Homo sapiens: one gene and its partners. The protein of the gene in region 2 purifies or fractionates together with the protein of the main gene of each other region. This does not show direct contact. Each region holds a gene or a part of one and is shown on either strand. Other genes may lie near its edges.

Evidence for each region.
Region 1: the proteins of MCFD2 (region 2) and AGL fractionate together in Homo sapiens (co-fractionation; one large-scale study listed by BioGRID). This does not show direct contact.
Region 3: the proteins of MCFD2 (region 2) and KLHL13 purify together in Homo sapiens (affinity purification with mass spectrometry; one large-scale study listed by BioGRID and IntAct). This does not show direct contact.
Region 4: the proteins of MCFD2 (region 2) and HKDC1 purify together in Homo sapiens (affinity purification with mass spectrometry; one large-scale study listed by BioGRID and IntAct). This does not show direct contact.

The regions. Positions count from the first base shown.
Region 1 is NC_000001.11:99,884,834-99,889,532, forward strand, and holds part of AGL (glycogen debranching enzyme), read left to right. Parts: intron 1-3,144; coding exon 3,145-3,275; intron 3,276-4,699. UniProt on the Homo sapiens protein: Multifunctional enzyme acting as 1,4-alpha-D-glucan:1,4-alpha-D-glucan 4-alpha-D-glycosyltransferase and amylo-1,6-glucosidase in glycogen degradation.
Region 2 is NC_000002.12:46,903,591-46,905,806, reverse strand, and holds part of MCFD2 (multiple coagulation factor deficiency protein 2 isoform A precursor), read left to right. Parts: intron 1-212; coding exon 213-344; 3' UTR 345-2,216. UniProt on the Homo sapiens protein: The MCFD2-LMAN1 complex forms a specific cargo receptor for the ER-to-Golgi transport of selected proteins. Plays a role in the secretion of coagulation factors.
Region 3 is NC_000023.11:117,902,639-117,907,337, reverse strand, and holds part of KLHL13 (kelch-like protein 13), read left to right. Parts: intron 1-4,699. UniProt on the Homo sapiens protein: Substrate-specific adapter of a BCR (BTB-CUL3-RBX1) E3 ubiquitin-protein ligase complex required for mitotic progression and cytokinesis.
Region 4 is NC_000010.11:69,265,305-69,269,224, forward strand, and holds the end of HKDC1 (hexokinase HKDC1), read left to right. Parts: intron 1-280; coding exon 281-514; intron 515-1,305; coding exon 1,306-1,453; 3' UTR 1,454-2,248; downstream 2,249-3,920. UniProt on the Homo sapiens protein: Catalyzes the phosphorylation of hexose to hexose 6-phosphate, although at very low level compared to other hexokinases. Has low glucose phosphorylating activity compared to other hexokinases. Involved in glucose homeostasis and hepatic lipid accumulation.

The DNA of each region.
Region 1 (4,699 bases), on a different chromosome or scaffold from region 2:
CATCACCTGTTGTTAACATTTTACCCTATTGTTTTATAATTTGTGTGTGTACCTGCATGTGTATTCTCTCTATAGATATAGATACACACATGCCTACATGCATACATAACACATGCATGCATCTCTGTATACACACACACACAATTTCTCTGAAGTATTTGAGACTAAGTTGCATACCTCATACCCTTTACCACATCATTTTTTAAAAATGTCAACATATTATTCTACTTTATGGCTTTACCATAATTTATTTAAACAATTTCCATTTTTGGACATCTAGATTGCTTCTAATTGTTCCCTATTATTTATGTCTTTGTACATTCATCTTTACATGAATCCTTAGTTATTCCCTTTCTAGATGTTTCTGCATACTACAGAAGAATATAGGTTTTGAGGTTTAGACCTAGGTTTAACTTTAGCTTCATTACTGTCAGTATGATCTTGGATCTATTGTTTAGAACTTTCATCATCTCAGTCTCCCATCTGGAAAATTTTGTAAGAATTAAATAGGATAACACTTATAAAACACTTAATACAATGCCTGGCACATAGTAAATGCTCATAGTTTGCCATCATTAGTACTAGTATAAATATTTTCAGAAATGGAAGTTTTGGGTTAGACGAGGGGTCCCCAACCTCTGGGCCACAGACTGGTACTGGTCCATGGCCTGTTAGGAACCAGGCCGCACAGCAGGAGGTGAGTGGCAGGTGAGCTTTATCTGTATTTACAGCTGCACCCCATCACTCGCATTACCACCTGAACTCTGCCTCCTGTCAGATCAGTGGCTGCATTAGATTCTCATAGGGACGTGAACCCTATTGTGAACTGTCCCTGCGAGGGATTTAGATTGCATGCTGCCTATGAGAATCTAATGCCTGATGATCTGCCACTGTTTGCCATCACCCCCATATGGGACTGTCTAGTTGCAGGAAAACAAGCTTAGGGGTCCCACTGATTCCACATTATGGTGAGTTGTATAATTATTTCAGTATATATTACAATGTAATAATAGTAGAAATAAAGTACACAATAAATGTAATGCACTTGAATCATCCCAAAACCACGCCCCTCACCCCCAGTCTGTGAAAAAATGTCTTCTGTGAAACCAGTCCCTGGTGCCAAAAAGGACCATTGGGTTAGACTATATCCATATATTTGAGGCTGTTAATACATACTGCCAAATTTTCTCCAGAAAGATTATAATAATTAATACTTTCAGCTCTATCCAAGAGTTTCCATCATTAGCAATACTGAGTATATATTATTATAACGTAGTGTTTAAGGGCATGGAGTATAGAACCAGACTAACTGGATTTGAATTCCATTGCAGACTCTTATTAGCTATAAGAAGTAAGACCTGGCTGAGTGCAGTGGCTCACTCCTATAATCTCAGCACTTTGGTAGGCCAAGGTGGGAGGATTGCTTGAGCCCAGGAGTCCAAGACCAGCCTGGGCAACATAGTGAGACCCTATCTCTACAAAACGTTTTAAAAAAATTAGCTGGAAGTTGTGGCATGCACCTGTGGTCACAGCTGTTCAGGAAGCTGAGGTAACAGCATCAGCATCAGTTGAGCCCAGGAGGTCTAGGCTGCAATGAGCCATGATTGTGCCACTGCTCTCCAGCCTGGGCAACAGAGCAAGACCCTGTCTCTAGAAAAAAAAAAAGAGATCTTTGAGAATTTATAATAGACATAATTATAGCACCTTTCTTACAGATTACTTGAGTAAAACACAATAGTTTTTGACACATAGTGATTGATAAGTGTTAGCTGTTACTAATCAAACTGGTAAATATAAAATAGTTAAAAATAACATCTCATGTAATTTAAATATTAAGCTAAATTATTTTGTTCATTGGCCATTTGTATTTATTTGTTGAAGTGTTGTTTTATGTATTACCCCATTTTGCTATTGTGTTCGGCTTTCTTTGTTGTTTTGTAAGACTTTTTATTGTTAAGGATATTAACTCCTAATTCAAACTATTCTTAATAAAGTAGTTGCATTCTTAACCAAAAAATCTGTGATGAAGCAGCTTTGTGTTTGGATGGACTGCTTGTAAAATGCATGTTCCTCCTCAGACCTGCTCAGATTATTTTGGAGCAAGGCCAAGAAATTTGCAGTTTTATAAGATCCCCAGGTAATTTTTAGGCAAGGAGTCCACTGGCTATTGAAAAATATTGTCCTAGAATGGAGTTGATACTGAGACTTCTGAGTGATTTGACTCAGGCTTGACTCACAAACTAGCTCTGGGGAGGGAGGCTGATATGGAGAGAACAAAGCACAGATGACAATGATTTTCTAAATTGAGCCAGAACTAAATGGGAAAGAAAGATACACATTCAAGAGGATATGTGTTCACATAAAATAGCAGTCATGTAAAATGAAATTACCTGAGCATCTATTATAGAAGCACAAGAAAATACAGTTTCAGCTGTATTCAGGTGTGGTCAGTTATACAGTCTTACTGCTAACCAAACAAAGGGAAATCAAGGCCATGATAGTCTTCCCTCTGACAGTTATCAGGAGGCATCTTAATCTGAGAAAAATCCTGGTTTCTTGAATAAACAAGCTGAGGGGCAGTGCAACCTTAGAGAAGAGAAAGGAAGGGACTTGGAGAGAAATATGAAGGTAGAGAGCATGTGATTTCCTAGGCAATTAACTTTGACTTTTTATTCCTTTAGTCATCCTCTGATAAGTATTTTTAGTATACAATAACTAGCATAAAAAGTTCTTGATGTCTCACTTAGGGGAATATAAAGGAGAGAAATCAGATGAGAACACATAAATAAATGAAGGAAGGAAGGAAAACACTAAGTCCAAACTAGAAAGGTTAAAAAAACAGATTTATAAGATAAAGGATATAGAAGCCAAAATATTTTCCCAGCATACTTCTAATCAATACAATTTGGTACTTGATTATTTGCTTGGTTTGGGAGTAATGTCGCTTCTAATTGAATTTTTTTTCACAATTTGTCCTTTAATAATTACTTAAAATGTATGAGTATAATGTTTATTTGAATGCTGAGTTCCTAAAACATACACTGCTAAGACATTTTATGATTGTAATTCAGATTTTCTTCTTTTGTTTCTATTGACAACAAGCGAAACTTCAATATATGGTTATCTTTATTTTCCAATTCTTAGTCTTGCCTCCAGATTAACTTTGGCTGAGCTAAATCAGATCCTTTACCGATGTGAATCAGAAGAAAAGGAAGATGGTGGAGGGTGCTATGACATACCAAACTGGTCAGCCCTTAAATATGCAGGTCTTCAAGGTAAGCAAATGGAAGGATAGCTGAGCTTTGTGTTTTTCTTTTAGGGTCATCTGGTGTCTTCTTTACAGACATAGATATAGGCTCAGAGTATGCCTACTTGGGTTGCAATTATGGCTCTGCTTCTGCTCATTAATTGACCTTTGGCAAGTAATATAACCTCTTTGTGTGCCAATTTCTGCTTCTATAAAATTTGAATAATATTATCTAATTTAGAAGGTTTTTGTGAGGATTAATGAGATCATTCACATAAAACACTGAAAACAGGATGTAACACAAAGTAATTACCCAGTAAATTTTACCTAGAAATACTAGTTCTATCTCTTTCCTTAAGGTCTGTATAGCTCTTTATGTATACTTGGACCTTGATTAATGTTTCTTGACCTGGTTTATTATATAATAAACAGAATATTCTTGTTTGGGCCCCAAGTGGGATTAGGTTGTAAATATAATCCATTCACCTTTTTTTAAATCTAATTGGAAATATATTTTATTGCATATTTGTTTTATCCTGTAAAGAGAACTTACAGTAAAACATACAGTAGTTGTAAGATGAGTTAAAGGAATTAAGTATTTATCAGTTTTATTCATCTAGTTGGTAATATTTACTTAGATGTTTAAGAAATTTGCTTTATCACACCTGTATTCCTGGTTCATATAGTTTTCACTTATGCCTTTTGTTCAACTCTTTATTTCTTTCTCCATCTAACCTATCTTTAAGGACTAATTTAATTCTTGCATCTTTCATAAAACCTTCTTTAACTATTGCTTTTTACAGTAATTTCTTTGTCCTCCAGACACCATTGCATTTATTTTCTATACCTCTTACTTGGCCCTTGAAATATATTGCCTTATTTTGATAGTTAGTATAATGATTTTTGTGAATCTTTATCATTGTGATTAAGAAACAGGCTTTAAAACCAGATTTCCTGGGTTACATTGACTAGTTTTATAACCTGAAGTAAATGCTCTATGGCTTACTTTTCCCCTGCAAAATGGTACCTACCACAGGGATTATGGTTAGGATTAATGAATTAATACATGTGAACAGCTCATTAGACGACACCTAATTCATACTAAGTAATTGGAAATTGTTAGCCTTAAAACCACACTAAGTAGGCTGCACACTTTCAGAAAGAAGAATTAAGTTTTATCTTTTTTATGCTTCTTGTCTTTTAGCTTTTATACTTTCTGCAAAACCAAGCACGTAAGCGGTTCTCAATAAACTTTTTTGAGACTTTTTGGATTTATGATCTTTTTTTCTAAAATATTCTCATTTTTAATACAAAATGTTTTGTGCTATGAGTAAGAAAGAAGTGTATGTGAGCCAGACATGGTGGCTTCCACCTGTAATCTCATGCTTTGGGAGGCCACAGCAGGAGGATCACTTGAGCCCAAGAGAGGTTTGAGGCTGCAGTGAACTATGA
Region 2 (2,216 bases):
CTATATATCTAGATTCCTAGAAGTAGCCCCATACTCCATTGAAAGTTTTTGGACACATATGAGCGTGGATATTTTGTTGTTTTGTTTTTCCTTTTTTTTTTTTTTTTTTTTAATAAACAGTGCCATGAAAGAACATGGATATTTTGGACGTTAGTTAAGCACTTCTTCCGGTAAAATGCGCAACTCATCATTGTCTAATTTGTATTTTGTAGGAAGGGAGTGAACAGGCACCACTAATGAGTGAAGATGAACTGATTAACATAATAGATGGTGTTTTGAGAGATGATGACAAGAACAATGATGGATACATTGACTATGCTGAATTTGCAAAATCACTGCAGTAGATGTTATTTGGCCATCTCCTGGTTATATACAAATGTGACCCGTGATAATGTGATTGAACACTTTAGTAATGCAAAATAACTCATTTCCAACTACTGCTGCAGCATTTTGGTAAAAACCTGTAGCGATTCGTTACACTGGGGTGAGAAGAGATAAGAGAAATGAAAGAGAAGAGAAATGGGACATCTAATAGTCCCTAAGTGCTATTAAATACCTTATTGGACAAGGGCTTGCTTCAAGCATCTGTATTAGTCTGTATTAATGCTGCTGATAAAGACGTACCCGAGACTGGGAAGAAAAAGAGGTTTACTTGGACTTACAGTTCCACATGGCTGGGGAGGCCTCAGAATCATGGCGGGAGGTGAAAGGCACTTCTTACATGGCAGCAAGAGAAAATGAGGAAGAAGCAAAAGTGGAAACCCCTGATAAGCCATCAGATCTTGTGAAACTTATTCACTATCACAAGAATAGCATGGGAAAGACTGGCCCCCATGATTCAATTACCTCCCCTTGGGTCTCTCCCACAACACGTGGGAATTCTGGTAGATACAATTTCAAGTTGAGATTTGGGTGGGGACATAGCCAAACCATATCATTCTACCCCTGGCCCCTCCAAATCTCATGTCCTCACTATTCAAAACCAATCATGCCTTCCTAACAGTCCCCCAAAGTCTTAACTCTTTTCAGCATTAACGCAAAAATCCACAGTCCAAAGTCTCATCTGAGACAAGGCAAGTCCCTTCCACCTATGAGCCTGTAAAATCAAAAGCAAGCTAGTTACTTCCTAGATACCAACAGGGGTACAGGTATTGATTAAAGACGGCTGTTCCAAATGGGAGAAATTGGCCAAAATAAAGGGGTTACAGGGCCCATGCAAGTCCGAAATCCAGCAGGGCTGTCAAATTTTAAAGTTCCAGAATAATCTCCTTTGACTCCAGGTCTCACATCCAGGTCATACTGATGCAAGAAGTGGGTTCCCATGGTCTTGGGCAGCTCTGCCCCTGTGGCTTTGTAGGGTACAGCCTCCCTCCTGGCTGCTTTCACGGCTGTTGTTCAGTGCCTGCGGCTTTTCCAGGTGCACGGTGCAAGCTGTTGGTGGATCTACCATTCTGGGGTCTGGAGGACGGTGGCCCTCTTCTCACAGCTCCACTAGGCAGTGCCCCAGTAGGGACTCTGTGTGGGGGCTCCCACACCACATTTCCCTTCTGCACTGCCCTAGCAGAGGTTCTCTCCCCTGCCGCTGAGAGGGCCTCTCCCCTGCAGCAAACGTTTGCCTGGGCATTGAGGCATTTCCATACATCTTCTGAAAACTAGGCGGAGGTTTCCAAATCTCAATTCTTGACTTCTGTGCACCTGCAGGCTTAACAGCACATAGAAGCTGCCAAGGCTTGGGGCTTCCACTCTGAAGCCACAGCCCGAGCTGTATGTTGGCCCCTTTCAGCCATGGCTGGAGTGGCTGGGACACAAGACACCAAGTCCCTAGGCTGCACACACATGTCAGGGGCTGCCCTGACATGGCCTGGAGACATTTTCCCCATGGTGTTGGGGATTAACATTAGGCTCCTTGCTACTTATGCAAATTTCTGCAGCTGGCTTGAATTTCTCCCCAGAAAATGGGTTTTTCTTTTCTATTGCATAGTCAGGCTGCAAATTTCCAAACTTTTATGCTTTGCTTCCCTTATTTATAAGGGAATGCCTTTAAAAGCACCCAAGTCACCTGTTGAACACTTTGCTGCTTAGAAATTTCTTCCGCTAGTTAACCTAAATCATCTCTCTCAAGTTCAAAGTTCCACAAATCCCTATGGAAGGGGCAAAATGCTGCCAGTCTCTTTGCTAAAACATAACAAGAGTCACCTTTACTCCAGTTCCCAACA
Region 3 (4,699 bases), on a different chromosome or scaffold from region 2:
AGCCATATTCTTCTGGGAGTTTTTAATCTTCAGGCCAAGGAGAGTCATTACATAAAACCAAGATGCTAGAGGCTTCTTTCTTTGAACCTATCCCAACTCTCTTTCAGCTGCTCCTATGGTATACCCATCTAGGAACTAGAAATAGACCACACTGTTGGGCAAGTGGCTCATACACAGGAATCCTTGCTCCTGACCTTCAGAAACCACCCCTCCATCTCTGATTAAAAACAGTCTTCTGTGTTTCATTTTGAAAGGGAAAAGAAACAAGGAAATCATGCTTTTCTTAGGGTATTCCTAAATTCATATTTAGGCTTTAACAATAAAATTTCTAAAGCTTAACCTAAGGATAATGACTTAAAAAAATTTCCCCTCTAATGGTAAATATAGGTCCATTTTAATCTTATTTCATAAACTGCATTTAAAAAAAGGCACATGTCATTATAATACAGGCACAAACCATCTATTCCAAGAATTCTAATTCTAGTTATCATCCAATTATTTGATATTTTATTCCATTTGAAATGATCTATAGATTACAAATCTATAATGACCTCATAGATTTGTAACCTATAAGTAGCTAAACTTTTGTAGAAAATGATTGCGTCCCTTAAAATCAGCATACCCATCAAACGCATTCTGTACTAAACATTTTATTATATAATATATTGGAAGTTTAAAAAATATTTTGTGATTGACTTAGTAAGTGCATTCAAATTTAGAGTCTTGATTTCAGGAGAAAAAAGGCCAAAAAGAGTCATTAGATAAAGCCAAGAAGCAAGAGGTTTCATTTGTTTCTGATCCACTCCACCCCCTTTGAGTTCTTTCTATGTTATACTCAAATAGAAGCAAGAAGTAGATTGTCTTGTCACGTCACATCCTGTATTACGGAGGTAACCAAACTTGATGAAACCTGCCTTGATTACTATTGCTCCCAAAGAATAATATTAATGAAATTTCCTGAATTCTATCCATGATCGTGTTTCTCTTTATATAAATAAAAAATGAATTTGTGTTAGTTGGCATTTCCAGTTTTCTTGGACCCATTGTTTTTGCAGAATAGCAGATTTTGATTCTAAAGAAACTCTTGCCTATATTTCTGAATGTTCCTGCCAGAAACTGAGGTTTTAACATTTCCCCTACCCTACAAGCGCTTTTTAAAAATAGAATTCCTCCTTCAACGCACACATTAACATCTGTTATAATAAATTAACATTCCCATTGTAACTGATTAAGTTGAGACATTCATATGCCTATGTAAATAGAAGGAGGTGATGGGAATGGGTGGCAGGAAGAGGGGATTGATGGGAAAGTCATTTAACAATTTAATAGGTTGATTAGTACCAGTATATCACTTCATACACACAGTAACTATTGCCTGTATATAATTATAAAAAGAAAAATTTGATGGGTACAAAAATAGTTAGAATGAATTAATAAGGCCTAGTATTTGATAGCACAGCAGGGTGACTATAGTCAATAATAATTTAATTGTATGTTTTACAATAAGTATGAGTATATATAATTGGATTATTCGTAACACAGAGGATAAATGCCTGAAAGGATGGATACTCCATCTTCTATGATGTGATTATTATACATTGCATACCTGCATCAAAACATCTCATGTACCCCATAAAAATATACACGTACTATGTACCCACAAAAATTAAAAATTAAAAAAAAAACAGTGGCAACATTTGCAAGACAGTTTAGATCACTTTAATGCATTAGGCCTTTTAAAATCTTTCCATGGGGTACTTGGACCAAAGGAAACCTAAGCCCATTGTTCATCAAAAAAAGACTGTGTGTGTGTGTGTGTGTGTGTGTGTGTGCACGCACTAGCACACGTGCTCACCTGGTTTAGTGCTGAAATATAATTCCTTCAAAATGCTGCTTTCCTTTGACACTGGTTACAATGGGAAACTAGGGGAGGCTTAGAGTAGCTGTCACTTAAGTGTAAAAGGAGTCAGTTATTTCTGGCATCTTTCAAAATTGTGTCATATAAGAAATCAATCTTCTATTGAGGCTTCCTATATTGAAGAAGATTATGACAGCTCCAATATCTTTCACTTCAGTTAAATATTAATAAGTTAAGGTTTCAAATAATGAAATAACTTATAGAAAACATGTTAGATGTTTTTCAAATACATGCACAATAAAACTACTAAAATTTATTAAATGCCTCTATACCCCCCAAAGGATTTGGGGGTTTCTTGATCACTCACCAGCGTTCTATGTTTCTAGAGTCCATCTCCCCTGTATGACAGCCATCACTGTTTAAATGATTTTCTTTAGGCTGATCTCTTTCCTAATCTTAAAGAACAAATAAATTCCACATCCTCTTCTGGGACCGATTCTGGATTCCTATGGAATTATCTCAGAAAATAAGAACTCCTGATATATGTGAGATAACCAACCTAAGTATAATTCTTAAATTGGAGAGATTCTTTAATGTAAACACTAGGCCACCAAACTACTGAAGTTAATTCTCTAGATTAGGGGCCAGCAAACTTTTGTAAAGGGCCAGAAAGAGTCTATTTCCAGCTTTGTGGGCCATTAAATCTCTGTCACAAGTAATCAACTCTGCTGTTGTAGTGTAAAAGCAACCCTACATAATCCATAAACAAATGAGTGAGGCTGTGCTCCAATAAAGCTTTATTTGTGAACATGAAATTTGAATTTTATAGAATTTTCATAAGTTACAAAATAGTCTTGATTCTTTTTCAATGTGTAAAAAATGTAAAATCATTCATATTTTTATCTTTTGGGCCCTACAAAACAGGAAGTAGACTGGATTTGGCCTATGGACTGAGGTTTGCTGCCACCTGCTCTAGATTTTTCCAGTTGCCTCTTTACCATTTCCAACTCTTATAGACTACGATTGAAGCACTGCTTTGTGGCTCCAACTCTTTGCCTTGCATCATCCCTTACTCCCTCTTCCCATCAGAGTTGTTGGTACTAACCTATATCTGAGTGTCGTGTAAATATGGAAAATGGAAATAAGAGCATGTGTATCTACTTTTTAATTAGATGTATTTTATTTTAAAATAAAATACTATTGATTTTACTGATAACAATAGCAACTCTGCATGGAGAATTGCATGACAATAAAAGTTGACAATAAAAATTAAATGCCTGGAACAGCTAAAGGAGATGCATTTTTAGCTGGAAAAAAGCTTAAGAATGATGGACTATTATATAGTAATTTTGTTATTGGTGGTTAATAGCTATCTTGAACTGAGGGCCTCCTGTGTGAGAAAGTACAAATGGATTCTTATAACCACTATTAGGGGAAAATGCAATTAAGTCACTGACAGAGGAATTATCTTTCTACATAGGAAAATATTAATAATAATAAAAAGTGAATAAGTATTCAAATTCTAACTCCACTATAAAAAGAATAAGAAGAAACTAATGGAAATCACATTGGAACAGTTTGAATTAAACATAAGAAAGGACAGTTACAATCCAAAAATTTCAAAGTTTAAGTCAGAGTCCCGCATTAAGAAAAGTGTAAAACTATAGTGAATCCTGTCTTTGGCTTCAAGCAGATGAAGATGATATCTGGAAGTCTTTTTAGACCCCGTTTCTGATAGGATGTGTGGTTTAATTACTTCTAAAAGCTTCCCATTAATGGCTTTGCTAATGCCAAGTACCAATCAATGCACTAGGTTTTCTCTTATGTGGCGAGAGAGAGAGAAGGAGAGAGAGAGAGAGAGAATAATAATGTAGGATTTTGCTTGTCCGTTAGGTAAAAGTCATGCCAAAGGCAAATAGAAATGAACATTTGAAAAGGCATCCAGTGACTGGAAATAGTAAAAAAAAACAACAGTACTGGGGCATGTGGCAGTTTAACTTGTTATTAATTTTAGAAATAGGGTTTAAAAGAAATAGAATTGGCAAGGATCCAGGCCTAAAGCAATGAACAAAGCCAACAAAGCAGTAGGTAAAAATGAGAATAGTAAAAGCCTTTGAAATAAGACTGAAAATTCAAAGCTAAAGTAAGTGGAAAAGGAAGTCAGTAGAGAGATACAAGAAGTGGCATGATATAGGTGTGCTTGGAGGAGAAAAGCATACTTTGCGTAGTGAATTTGATGATGAAATGAAATTATTGAATAGAGCGGAAAAGTAGTCTCTCTCTCTCTCTCTCTCTCTCTCGCTCTCCTCTCTCTCTCTCTCTGTGTGTGTGTGTGTGTGTGTGTTTTGCCTGTCACCATGTTATTTTTTTTTAAGTAGAGAATCTCATTCAAAGGTTGATTCATCAGGATTGCATTTGGTTGCAAGTAGCTAAACCTAATTCCAGTGGCTTGATCAAATTGTCCTACTCAATAAACTTCTGCTTACCCGTCGCTGCCCAGAACTATATCATATGGTGGACCAAAGCTTCAAGGGAACCTGCTAAATTAAATTTCGTTTTTAGCTTGGTGTAGTGCTTCCCTAAGCAGTGTTGTGGTTCTGTTAGTTTAAAAAAGTAGGGTTGGGGGACGCAAGAAATTGGATTAGCAGTTGGCAGTGTCTGCAATAAATAATATGAACTTTTCAAGTCAATCTAGACCTCATGCTTTTGATGAGTTCTCTTAACAGCTTCTCTGCCTTTTAAAAAGTGATTACATTTTCCATCTTTCTTGGTGACATTGTTCTGTTCTTGAGGTTATAACAGACTGATTGAAAGATACTTAAGTGAGTTGAGGTCACTTCT
Region 4 (3,920 bases), on a different chromosome or scaffold from region 2:
TTGCTGCAGCTCATATGGCTTCTAGTGAGATCACAGATATGAACATGCTGAACACCAGAGGCATTCACACTTTATTTTTTAAAGTTGATGGAACTTCCAGGGGTGGTGGACCTTCTTGAGTCTCGGCTTCTAAGGCATTCTGCTCCAGCCTAGCCATTGCCTGGGTCAATTTCTCCTCCCTCCTGTAAGGGCATCTAAGAATGGGGAGGCTGTGGGTCACACTGGGCACATCCCGGGGTCCTGGGAAGCAGGTCCTGACTCCCTGCTCTATTGCCTGCAGCGATCGGCTGGCCCTTCTCCAGGTCAGGAGGATTCTGCAGCAGCTGGGCCTGGACAGCACGTGTGAGGACAGCATCGTGGTGAAGGAGGTGTGCGGAGCCGTGTCCCGGCGGGCGGCCCAGCTCTGCGGTGCTGGCCTGGCCGCTATAGTGGAAAAAAGGAGAGAAGACCAGGGGCTAGAGCACCTGAGGATCACTGTGGGTGTGGACGGCACCCTGTACAAGCTGCACCCTCAGTGAGTGCCCACAAGAGGCGTGGCGGGTGGGGCTGGGGAGGGCTGGCGGCCAAGTGTGGACTTGGCATAGCCTCCTGAACTGCGGCATGGGAAGATGCATCCCCGTCCTTTTATGGGAAAGGAGTGCTGTGTGGTCAAGTCACCTATTCAATCTGACAGACAAGGTGTGAGCCCTGGTGCCTCTGCTACCTGGTAATACGATGTGGGAATGTTAGCCGGCCTCTCTAAACCCCAGGTTCCTCATCCACAAAAGGCCAGCACTAATAATCCCTACCACATAGGGCTAAATGTGTGAGGTTGAAATGAGTTAGCACATGTAAAGTGCTTCACACGGGGCTCAAGAAATGTAAGTTGGCTGAGTGCAGTGGCTCATGCCTGTAATGGCAGACGGGAGGATCACTTGAGCCCAGGAGTTTGAGACCAGCCTGGGCAACACAGGGAGACTCCATTTCCACAAACATAAATAAATAAAATACAAAATGAACAAAAATTACAAATATTAGCTGGGCGTGATAGTGCATACCTGTGGTCCCAGCTACATGGGAGGCTGAGCTGGGGGGCTTGAGCCTGGGAACTCGAGGCTGCAGTGGGCTGTGATTGCACAACTGCAGTCTACACCCTGGGCAACAGAGTGAGACCATGTCTAAAAAAAAAAAAAAATTAGAAGAAGCTGTTTAGAGCCTTGAAAAGCAAACCAAAGGGAAGAAGCTAAAGAAATTAGATTATGATCATTTATAAATGTTCTGATTCTACATGGAAGGGCTGATGATGTTTCTTTCTCTTTTTCATAGCTTTTCTAGAATATTGCAGGAAACTGTGAAGGAACTAGCCCCTCGATGTGATGTGACATTCATGCTGTCAGAAGATGGCAGTGGAAAAGGGGCAGCACTGATCACTGCTGTGGCCAAGAGGTTACAGCAGGCACAGAAGGAGAACTAGGAACCCCTGGGATTGGACCTGATGCATCTTGGATACTGAACAGCTTTTCCTCTGGCAGATCAGTTGGTCAGAGACCAATGGGCACCCTCCTGGCTGACCTCACCTTCTGGATGGCCGAAAGAGAACCCCAGGTTCTCGGGTACTCTTAGTATCTTGTACTGGATTTGCAGTGACATTACATGACATCTCTATTTGGTATATTTGGGCCAAAATGGGCCAACTTATGAAATCAAAGTGTCTGTCCTGAGAGATCCCCTTTCAACACATTGTTCAGGTGAGGCTTGAGCTGTCAATTCTCTATGGCTTTCAGTCTTGTGGCTGCGGGACTTGGAAATATATAGAATCTGCCCATGTGGCTGGCAGGCTGTTTCCCCATTGGGATGCTTAAGCCATCTCTTATAGGGGATTGGACCCTGTACTTGTGGATGAACATTGGAGAGCAAGAGGAACTCACGTTATGAACTAGGGGGATCTCATCTAACTTGTCCTTAACTTGCCATGTTGACTTCAAACCTATTAAGAGAACAAAGACTTTGAAGTATCCAGCCCCAGGGTGCAGAGAGGTTGATTGCCAGGGAGCACTGCAGGAATCATTGCATGCTTAAAGCGAGTTATGTCAGCACCCTGTAGGATTTTGTTCCTTATTAAGTGTGTGCCATGTGGTGGGGTGCTGTCTGGGGCATCTGTTTTTCATTTTGCCTGTGGTTTGTGTTGCAGGTGTTGATAGTTGTTTTAAGGATTGTTAGGTATAGGAAATCCAGTAAATTAATAAAAAAATTTTGATTTTCCAATAAACTTTGCATGAAGTGGTGATATTTCTTCTGGGAGGCTCACTTGGTAATACCATGCTTTGTTGATGGAATAAGGGATGCAGAGTCAGAAGGAGCTTGAGCATTTTTCTCGAGTCCAAACTTCCTACCAACAGGGGTAATATATGGAATATCTTCTACAATATCCTTAACAGATTATCCAGATGTCTTTAGAATACTTCCAGTAACTGAGCATTTCCCACATGATCCTACAGCTCTTGCTTTTGAACGGCTGGAGTGGACTGGAAGTCCTTCTGACTTCTGAGCTCGGTTCCTCCCATACACCCCACTGATCTCCATTCTACCCTGCAGAACTATGTGTAATAGGCCTGTCCCTGACCATTTCTCCAGTGGACTTCCTCTCTCTCTCCTCTCTTCCCCACTTTACCTGAACTGCCTGTGCCTTTCTGTTCTGCCACATAGTTATCTGTATGAGTTTCACATCTGGCCAGATAGATTGTAAACTCTTTGTCAAACACATTCTTGTATTGCTCTAGTGAACCTAGCACTGTGCCATTCCTATCAAATACTTACTTGTGGGAGGCATGATTGAAGAAATAGAACTTTTCAAGAAATTTTCTTCAGATAAAGTATAGACTGGGTATGGTGGCTCACACCTGTAATCTCAGCACTTTGGGAGGCCAAGTCTGGAAGATTGCTTGAGGCCAGGAGTTCAAGATCAGCTTGGGCAACATATCAAGACCCCCATCTGTACAGAAAAATTTTTAAAATTAGTTGAATGTGGTGGTGCACACCTGCAGTCCCAGCCACTCAGGAGGCTGAGGTGCGGGGTATCTCTCGAGTCTAGGTTTGAGGTTACAATGAGCTATGACTGCACCACTGCACTGCAGCCTGGGCAACGGAAAGAGACCCTGCTTCTTAAAAAAAAAAAGAGAGAGAGAAAGAGAAAGAAATGAAAGAAAGAAAGAAAGAAAAAGAAAGAAAGAGAAAGAAAGAAAAGGAAGGAAGGAAGGAAAGAGACAACTATTGTCATGGGAAACAAACTGAAAAGAATAATCCACAGTGATTTTATTTGTATTTATGTGCTTAATTACATACTTAAGTATGACAACTCCACAGAGTGCTCTTGCTGTCTCTTCAAAAGATTATGGCTTTGGTCAGGCGTGGTGGCTCATGCCTGTAATCCTAGCACTTTGGGTGGCTGAAGCAGGCAGATCACTTGAGTTCAGGAGTTTGAGACCAGCCTGGCCAGCATGGTGAAACCCCGTCTCTACTAAACATACAAAAAAAAAAAAAAATAGCCGGGCGTGGTGGTGTATCCTTGTGATCCCAGCTACTTGGGAGGCTGAGTCAGGAGAATCACTTGAACCTGGGGGGTGGAGGTTGCAGTGAGCCGAGATTGAGCAACTGCACTCCAGTCTGGGTGACAGAGCGAGACTCTGTCTCAAAAAAAAAAAAAGTTTTTGGATTCCAGCTCTAAGCGTCACCATTTGCTGAAGCGGGATGTCCAGATGGAGTGAAGGGGGCTGAGTCTAAAGACGGAGAGAGAGAGAGGCCAGCTAGGGCTGGGGATAATGAGGGAGCTGAGGGTTCCCCAGGACATATTTTTTACACTTTCTTTTTTGTTGTTTTTTGAGACAAGGTCTCATTCTGTCACTCAGGTTGGAGCATGGTGGCGCAATCACGAATCACTGCAA